3 linked regions of the Homo sapiens genome follow. The protein of the gene in region 1 interacts with the protein of each later gene in a pairwise test. Each region holds a gene or a part of one and is shown in the gene's direction. Other genes may lie near its edges.

The links.
Region 2: the proteins of WDR62 (region 1) and P4HA3 interact in binary tests that used the Homo sapiens proteins (3 or more experiments, as listed by UniProt).
Region 3: the proteins of WDR62 (region 1) and RALY interact in a two-hybrid assay, tested with the Homo sapiens proteins (one large-scale study listed by BioGRID and IntAct).

What each region holds. Positions count from the first base shown.
Region 1 is NC_000019.10:36,068,273-36,071,928, forward strand, and holds part of WDR62 (WD repeat-containing protein 62), read left to right. Parts: intron 1-3,283; coding exon 3,284-3,444; intron 3,445-3,656. UniProt on the Homo sapiens protein: Required for cerebral cortical development. Plays a role in neuronal proliferation and migration.
Region 2 is NC_000011.10:74,283,998-74,287,653, reverse strand, and holds part of P4HA3 (prolyl 4-hydroxylase subunit alpha-3 isoform 1 precursor), read left to right. Parts: intron 1-1,262; coding exon 1,263-1,426; intron 1,427-1,668; coding exon 1,669-1,845; intron 1,846-3,656. UniProt on the Homo sapiens protein: Catalyzes the post-translational formation of 4-hydroxyproline in -Xaa-Pro-Gly- sequences in collagens and other proteins.
Region 3 is NC_000020.11:34,083,053-34,085,445, forward strand, and holds the end of RALY (RNA-binding protein Raly), read left to right. Parts: 3' UTR 1-1,832; downstream 1,833-2,393. UniProt on the Homo sapiens protein: RNA-binding protein that acts as a transcriptional cofactor for cholesterol biosynthetic genes in the liver. Binds the lipid-responsive non-coding RNA LeXis and is required for LeXis-mediated effect on cholesterogenesis.

The sequences.
Region 1 (3,656 bases):
AGTTGTTTTCCCATGACTATTTGATCTACTTCACATTTCTTTTCTCCTTTGAGCACTCTGGCTGGTAGAGGATTGCATTTTTTTTTAATTAATTTATTTTTTTTTATTGATCATTCTTGGGTGTTTCTCCCAGAGGGGGTTTGGCAGGGTCTTAGGACAATAGTGGAGGGAAGGTCAGCAGACAAACAAGTGAACAAAGGTCTCTGGTTTTCCTAGGCAGAGGACCCTGCGGGCTTCCGCAGTGTTTGTGTCCCTGGGTACTTGAGATTAGGGAGTGGTGATGACTCTTAACGAGTCTGCTGCCTTCAAGCATCTGTTTAACAAAGCACATCTTGCACCGCCCTTAATGCATTTAACCCTGAATGGACACAGCACATGTTTCAGAGAGCACAGGGTTGGGGGTAAGGTCATAGATCAACAGCATCCCAAGGCAGAAGAATTTTTCTTAGTACAGAACAAAATGAAGTCTCCCATGTCTACTTCTTTCTACACAGACACAGCAACAATCTGATTTCTCTATCTTTTCCCCACCTTTCCCCCTTTTCTATTCCACAAAACCGCCATCGTCATCATGGCCCGTTCTCAATGAGCTGTTGGGTACACCTCCCAGACGGGGTGGTGGCCGGGCAGAGGGGCTCCTCACTTCCCAGAAGGGGCGGCCGGGCAGAGGCACCCCCCATCTCCCGGACGGGGCGGCGGCAGGGCGGAGGCGGACCCCCACCTCCCTCCCTGACGGGCCGGCTGGCTGGGCAGGGGCTGACCCCCACCTCCCTCCTGGACGGGGCGGCTGGCCGGGCGGGGGCTAACCCCCCACCTCCCTCCCGGACGGAGCGGCTGGCCGGGCGGGGGCTGACTCCCCCCACCTCCCTCCCGGACTGGGCGGCTGGCCGGGCGGGGGCTGACCCCCACCTCCCTCCGGGACGGGGCGGCTGCTGGGCGGAGACGCTCCTCACTTCCCAGACGGGGCAGCTGCCGGGCGGAGGGGCTCCTCACTTCTCAGACGGGGCGGCTGCCGGGCGGAGGGGCTCCTCACTTCTCAGATGGGACGGCCAGGCAGAGACGCTCCTCACCTCCCAGACAGGGTCGCGGCCGGGTAGAGGCGCTCCTCACATCCCAGACGGGGTGGCGGGGCAGAGGCGCTCCCCGCATCTCAGACGATGGGCGGCCGGGCAGAGACGCTCCTCACTTTCTAGACGGAATGGCAGCCGGGAAGAGGCGCTCCTCACTTCCCAGATTGGGCAGCCGAGCAGAGGGGCTCCTCACATCCCAGACGATGGGCGGCCAGGCAGAGACGCTCCTCACTTCCCAGACGGGGTGGCGGCCGGGCAGAGGCTGCAATCTCGGCACTTTGGGAGGCCAAGGCAGGCGGCTGGGAGGTGGAGGTTGTAGCTAGCCAAGATCGCGCCACTGCACTCCAGCCTGGGAAACATTGAGCACTGAGTAAACGAGACTCCGTCTGCAATCCCGGCACCTCGGGAGGCCGAGGCTGGCGGACCACTCGCGGTTAGGAGCTGGAGACCAGCCCGGCCAACACAGCGAAACCCTGTGTTTGGTGGAGACCAAAAAAATACGAAAACCAGTCAGGCGTGGCGGCGCGCGCCTGCAATCGCAGGCACTCGGCAGGCTGAGGCAGGAGAATCAGGCAGGGAGGTTGCAGTGAGCCGAGAGGGCAGCAGTACAGTCCAGCTTTGGCTCGGCATCAGAGGGAGACCGTGGAAAGAGAGGGAGAGGGAGACCGTGGGGAGAGGGAGAGGGAGACCGTGGGGAGAAGGAGAGGGAGAGGAGGATTGCATTTTTTAAAAATTGGAGGTACCATTGATTTAATAACTTTTCAGTCAAAAAAGACTACACAAAATACATAAACTTTTATTTATTTTTATTTATTTTTACTTTTTTTTTTTTTTTGAGATGGCGTCTCACTTGTTGCCAAGGCTGGAGTGCAGTGGCGCAATCTCAGCTCACTACAAGTTCCACCTCCCAGGTTCAAGCAATTCTCCTGCCTCAGCCTCCCAAGTAGCTGGGATTACAGGTGCCTGCCACCACGCACAGCTAATTTTTGTATTTTTAGTAGAGACAGGGTTTTACCATGTTGGCCTGGCTGGTCTCGAACTCCTGACCTTTAGTGATCCATCCGTCTTGGCCTCCCACTGCGCCCGGCCATAAACTTTTAAACTAAAGCATGATCTATCGATACATTGCAGAGCTTCTTTCCTTTAGTATCTGAAGGTTTGAGTCAAAGCTGTTTTCCCATCTGGAATCAGTTGCCCATTTGGCTATCCGCCCGAGCGTTGTGGTTTCCTCTCCTGTTCCTGGCCTGCCTTTGTGACTCACTCTGGAGATCACCTTCGAGGTTAATGGCTTGTGGAAGAGTTCCAAGTTTTATCTCTGTCCTAGTTGGTTAAACATCATTTTCTCTTTTTCAAGCAAGTGAAAAGCTTTCAATAGATAGATGTTTATTTCCTAAGCACTAAATGACTCATAAATTAAGTCCCTGTAGATTTGGAAAAACTCCTTAAACTGTATCTAGAGGTCTAGCACTTCCTAGTAGGATAGACAGTCCTTTCTAGATACTGTAACTTTTTTCTGTACCGCTTTGGAGTACAGTCTTTATGAAGTTGTTTGTAAGCAAAAGGGAATAAAATTTAAGCCTAAAGGCTGGGCGCGATGGCTCACATCTGTAATCCCAATGCTTTGGGAGGCCAAGGCAGGTGGATCACCTGAGGTCAGGAGTTCAAGACCAGCCTGACCAACATGGTGAAACCCCATCTCAAAATACAAAAAATTATCTGGGTGTGGTGGCGGCCGCCTATAATCCCAGCTACTCTGGAGGCCGAGGCAGGAGAATCACTTGAACCCAGGAGGTGGAAGTTGCAGTGAGCCGAGATTGTGCCATTGCACTCCAGCCTGGGCGCAACAAAAAACTCTATCTCAAAAAAAAAAAAAAATTTAAGCCTAAAATTCAACCCTGTTACTACAAGTGACTTACCTGAAGTTGCAGTCTGCTGAACAGGTATTTTCCATACACAGCTACGTTTCTCTGTAGACAGCAGTGACAATTCTGTTTCCGTTCATGCCTCTGCCTACCTGCTGGCACATGTCTTTCAATAGCAGCAGTATGCTATATCCTGATTTCACAAATCTTAAAATATGCTAAAATGGGTGTCTTAGACCCAAGGAACTGTAAGTCTTCTCTGGAGGCCTAAGGCTGCTCTGTCAGTCCCCATATCCCCGGGCCAGGCCACGTGAAGCACCAAATCCACTGGGGTCCCTTTTGCCCCTACAGGTCTCCCTGTCTTCCTGCCTCTGTGTCAGCCAGGAGCTCATCTTCTGTGGCTGCACAGATGGGATAGTCCGCATCTTCCAGGCCCATAGCCTGCACTACCTCGCCAACCTGCCCAAGCCACACTACCTTGGGGTAGACGTGGCACAGGGCCTGGAGCCCAGGTACTGCCCTGTGGGGAGAGGGAATGGGAGGGGCCCACCCAGAGTCTGTCCACTGGCATTCATCCATGCTTCCAGATCCATCTATCTGTCTGTCCATCCCACAAATACCCATCATGACTCTCAGCCCTGGGCATTACAAAGCAGAAAAGTCCTTGCCTTCCGAGGCAAGCCTCACAGTGAGAAGTGAGGCTGGGTAGGGGGAAGAAACAGTG
Region 2 (3,656 bases), on another chromosome or scaffold:
CAAAACTTTTTAATGAATCCATTTAGTAACATTATTCCCTTCTGATAATTAGCAAACAATAGGATAAGGAAGTAGCTGTGTATCTACAAACACATGAGTAATTAGTGGTACAAACAAAATTATAATCCAACCCTTCTTTATTTATTTGCACTTGATCTATTAAAATCTTTGCTATCCACTCAAATTTTGTGCTTTTATAGGTGGATAATAGAACATGGCAAGTTGAGATTCCCAGTTTTATTTCCGGCTTTGCAATATTTTCACTGGGGTTTGGGCTTATAATTTCCATTCTCCAAAACTTCACTTCTTCTCTTGTTAAAACAGAATGGTAATTTCTGCCCCTTCCTTTCCTCCTTTGCCAGGGTGATGGTTGTGGTTAGAAGCACACTGGGCTCCTCAGAGAAAGATGCTTTGGGAGCATTAGAACAATTCAGCATCTCCTTCTGAGATGCATTGAGAGTCATGCAAAGAGGCCAGCAGGCCACGGGTAGCTCTGCCAATGCATGGGGCATCTTGCAGCCAAAGTGGGTACAAACAGGTGGGCACAAACAAGACACAAGATTTATTGGGTTTCCCAAGGGCCCTGTGGGAATCCAGTCTAGAGCCAAAGTCTAGAGTCCCTCTGCGCCATACTTCTTTGCTCTGGGTCTAGGCCAGTTAGGAGATTTGAAAGATCTAGTGGAGCCAAGAATGAATTAGCTTCCAATTCTCTGGGGAAGAATAGGTTGGGTCCTTTTGCAATAGGCTTTGGCTTTCTGGACTTCTCTTTCATTGCACTTATCATATTTTGTTGTAAGTGATAATTTAATGTCCTTTTTCTCCATTAGACTCTAAACTCTGAGAGGTCAACCTGTAGCACAGTATCTGGTACATAGTAGATGTTCACTGAAGATTTACTGAATGGATGGGTGAAAGAATGAATGAATGAATGAGGCTTCATCTTCGCCATATATACCATCACAGTATCCCAGAGCAGCCATCTTCATGATCCCTTGGCCTAAGAGTTTTAAGTTCCACTTTGCTTCCCAAAACCCTTTGCACCTTCAGATCTACCAGGATCAAGTCAGTCTTTTAAAAAAATACCAGGTAGTCTTCTGGGAGTGAGGGCCTTGCATCCTCCTGTGTGTTGACATGAGGAGTTATTCAGGAGATCCACTTGCCCATCCTGTGCAGCAGTGAAGCTGGAGGAAACCTTGGTGGCACTCCCTGGGGCCAGTATTTGTTAATCCCTATTTTATATTCCCTGCTCTGATTTCTTCCAGGCCCAGATAATAAGAGGATGGCCAGGAATGTCTTGAAATATGAAAGGCTCTTGGCAGAGAGCCCCAACCACGTGGTAGCTGAGGCTGTCATCCAGAGGCCCAATATACCCCACCTGCAGACCAGAGACACCTACGAGGGGCTATGTCAGACCCTGGGTTCCCAGGTAGGATTCCTCAGGGAAAGAGAAAGGGGGAGAGGCCTGGCTAGAGTTTGAGAAGCTAGAATTGGGATAACATGAGGGGATAGAGCTGATGCATTAAAAACAATAAAGCTCACTTGGGCAGCATCAGAGTGACCACATTCTGTATCTCTTGCATTCCAATTTTTTTATGCCATAGTTCCCCTAAGTTGAGTTTTGCTCCTAGACCCTTCTTCTCTTATGCTCATCCTATTCTTTCCTTCCAGCCCACTCTCTACCAGATCCCTAGCCTCTACTGTTCCTATGAGACCAATTCCAACGCCTACCTGCTGCTCCAGCCCATCCGGAAGGAGGTCATCCACCTGGAGCCCTACATTGCTCTCTACCATGACTTCGTCAGTGACTCAGAGGCTCAGAAAATTAGAGAACTTGCAGAACCATGGGTGAGTGTCCTGAGAACCCGCCAAGAATTTCTCTTTCATCTTCACATGCCTGGAGTTCAGGAGTGTAAGAATAGGCAACCTGAACAACTAGACACCTCAAAGAGCCAAGGAGTTCAGAATGCCAACCATTCCATAAAACTAGTCCATGGTGGAAAAAAATCACAATAGTGCTTGCCTCTAGAGGGAAAGGATTAACTGGATGATGTACAAGAGGATTCTCTGGGGTATTGAAAATGTGCTCTCAATATCTTGTTAGGGACGTGGTACATGTGGCTGTATGCATTTGTCAAAACTCACCAAATGGTCCACTTGAGACCTGTGTATATCATTGTATGTAAGTTTAACCTAAAAAAAGACAAATAAAAAAGAACACTTCAAAAGTGTCAACCATTCTATGTAATTGGTAGAGGTGGGGAAAAGGGTGAAATGACAGCGGCAAGGAGTAAAATCCTAGCACAAATTTACAGAGTTAGAGTAGAAAGCTAAACTTCATTATTTTGTTAAAAAGGAAACCGAGGCCCAGAGAGGGGAAGGGACTTGTTAAGCTCATACATGTAGCTAGAGCCACAGCTAGAACTTAGAGGTACAGTAGTCCCCCTTATTTGCAATTTTACTTTCTGTGGTTTCAGTTATTCTCAGTGTAGTACAATAAGATATTTTGAGAGAGAGAGGTCATTTTCCCATAATTTTATTACAGTATATTATTATTATTATATTTTATTGTTAATCTCTGTGCCTCATTTATGAATTATAAATTATAACATATAATTATAAATTAAACTTTGTAATTCAGTTACAATCATTATTATAATTTCGTTATAAAAAGAACCAAAGGAGGCCAGAATGATCAGGGCTAGCGGGCCCAACGAAGGTGCAGGGCTTCAACTGAGTCTCCAAAGATGGGCAGAATGTGGCGAGAAGTGTTGAGTGAGTGTGCTTTGGGAAAGGGACAGTGACTAGGAAGCAGATATTCAACACAAGCCACTGAGGCATCTGTCTTCAGTTTCCATGGGGGAGCCACTACCATGTGAGCCCAGGGCTGATTCCTGGGAGAGCCACAAACCAGACAGGCATCAGCAGCCCCAGAGAGATGCTTCTAGGGGAAGGAAGTGTGCCAAGGTCTGTGCATGCCAAATGGACGACACGGCCATGAATGACTAAATAGACATCTCTGGGTGGGTCACTTCTCCCATTACCATGGCAACAGGGCTGTTTTAAGGAAAAATTTAGTTATAATGTAATTATGATTATAATTAAATTACAATCATGATTAAATTAAATTACAATCATGATTAGATTAAATTTTGATTGAAGCCATCCCACTGTCTTCACTTGGAGACCCAGCCTGACAGAGCAGCCTCTGTATGGGACATTGCCAGTCTCATGGAAGAGGAAAAAGACAAATGGCAAACATGAGCTGGTTCATAAAGCTTCTGCATGGAAGTGCCAGATGTTACTTCCACCCATGTTTCACTGGTCAGAGCAAAGCATGTGGGCACTACTGCAGTTAACAGCAAGGTTCTAATTCTTCCACAGGGAAAGCACTGCAAGTCACCAAGCCAAGCTGGATGTCAATGGGAAGAGGACATTTAATCCTCCCCCTAGGAAGTGTGCTAAATATTAACAAGAAAAAATGCACCTCTATAAGCATGTTGCCTCTTTAAAGATATTGTCTCAGAATTATTTCTGTCAAGCCAGACATTGTGCCCTTAACATGTGCAGTTCATCCAGGCAGCCATTAGTCATTCGTCAACAGAATAGAGCCCACTGTGTGCCAGACACTGGCCTGGGTGCTGGGCTTTTACAGTGAG
Region 3 (2,393 bases), on another chromosome or scaffold:
AGTTTCCTCAGCTGTAAAATGAGAGGTTGATCTGGATCAGGGATAGTAAATGGGCCTTTGTTCAGTTACTGACTGTTGTATAACAAACCACCCCCAAATTTAGTAGCCTTAATAAACATTTATTAGCTCCTGAGTGAGTGGCTTGGCAGTTTGGGCTGTGTTCAGTGTGGTGGTTCTTATCTCATCTGGGCCCTCGTGTGGCTGAAGTGAGCTGGCAGATCAGCTGGGGACTGGCTGGTCTCAGATGGCCTCGCCCGCCTGTCAGGTGGTTGGCTGGGCAACTGGGCCACACGTTCCAGCATCTAGCAGGCTGACCCAGGATTCTAGACATCATGGCTGAGTTCCAAAAACCGCAAGAGAAGACAAGCCCAGTATGCGAGTGCTCTTGAGGATATTGCTATGACGTATCTTTTGGCCAAAGTAAGTCACATGGCTAAGCCCAAATTCTTCTTAACAGGAGGAGCTTCAAAATATGGCCATATTTAAAAAATCTACCTCAGGACTCATTTCACTTGCCAACTCAGAACTTTTAGTAGCAGCTGCCTGGAGTGCCTTTTGAGGATCTGCAGCAATTTTCAGACTGTTTGGAAATACTGACATGATAGTTTGGCAGTTTCTCTTATGAGCATGGAATTCAAGTGTGGGCACGTGAGCGTCAGGTATTTGCCATCCCTGGCCAGGTTGACCCGTAAGGTCATAACCTGCCCCATAGGATGTTATATGCAGTAGGCCTGTCTGACAAGACCACAGAAATAGAGAAGGCAAAGCAGAGCAAAAGATTCTGAGCCAGGCATCCTTGGTTTTCATCCCAACCAGATCATTGATTGATTGAGGTTTTAGGCAAATCAAAATCCCTCCACCAGTAGCCAGATTCTTCATAATAAACTTCCTCCATAACAGTAAACCATTTCCTGAACACCTGCTGTTAAAAAGCACATTTTACATTTACTTAATCTCCACAACCACCCTCAGTAGGTGTAGTAAGGACTTCTGGTTACAAGTTACAGAAACTGAATTCAGTCCTGCTTAGTGGGAGGAAGTTTATTGGCTCACAAATTGTAAAGTCCAGGGATCTTCAGACATGGGGACTTGGGTTCAAAAGCTGCCATCGAGAATCCGGTTAGCCAGGCATGGTGACACGTGCCTGTAGTCCCCGCTACTTGGGGGACTACAGTGGGAGATCATTTGCACCTAGGAGGTTAATGCTGCGGTGAGCCATGATCCTGCCGCTGCACTCCAGCCTGGGTGACAAAGCGAGACCCCAACTCAAGGGGAAAAAATCTGGTTTTCGGGCAGGTTCCAAGAAGTGGTAGAGCATGGCCATAGGGCCTGTGAGAATAGAGGGACAGAGGGGAGAATCCCCAAAAGGAGAGCAAGGCTTGGCTAACAAAAACAGGCATCCACTGTGTGGTTATGTCTATTCTATAGATTTTGTAGATGAGGTTTAAAAGCATGGCCCCAAGTAAAGGTGGCATCTCTATCCTATCCTCGCCTTTATCTAAACTCTGTGACCGATCAATAGCATATGATGGTGGTGGTGCTCTGCCAGTCTCCCAGTCCCAGACTGAAGCACTAGCAGCTTCCACTTATTATCTCTTGGGACTCTAGCTCTTGGGACCCAACCACCATGCTGTGAAGCAGCCCAGGCCACACAGAGAGGCCACGTGTACATGTTCAGCTGACAGCAGTATCAAATGTCAGACATGAGAGAGGAAGGCTTCAAGATGACTCCAGCCCAGCCACCGTCTGAGAACAAAGTAAGAACTGCCTCACTGATGCCATTCAAAGCCCAGCACCATGAGAGATAATAAAACGTTGTTTGAAGATGCTAACTTTTGGAGTGATTTGTTGTATCAGTAGATAACCAGGACACAGGCCCACAGAGGTTCAGTAGCTTGCTGTGCTTCTCAGGGGGCTAGGTTAAGAGTATAGGTTTTGTTGCTGGGCGCGGTGGCTCACGCCTGTAATCCCAACACTTTGGGAGGCCAAGGCGGGCAGATCACGAGGTCAGGAGACCGAGACCATCCTGGCTAACACGGCGAAACCCCGTCTCTACTAAAAATACAAAAAAATTAGCCGGGTGTGGTGGCGGGCGCTTGTAGTCCCAGCTACTTGGGAGGCTGAGGCAGGAGAATGGTGTGAAGCTGGGAGGTGGAGCTTGCAGTGAGCCAAGATCGCGCCACTGCACTCCAGCCTGGGCGACAGAGCAAGACTCCGTCTCTTGCTGACTCTTACCCATATGCCTGCATCTGTCTACCCTCTTTTCTATGTACTTGCTCCCTGGATGACTTCATCCGTGGCTTCAGACTCCACTCATGGCTCCATAATCTTCACCTCTAACTCATTTTCCTCCCAAGAACACCAGGGGAGTAGGTACAGATGCCCATCTAATA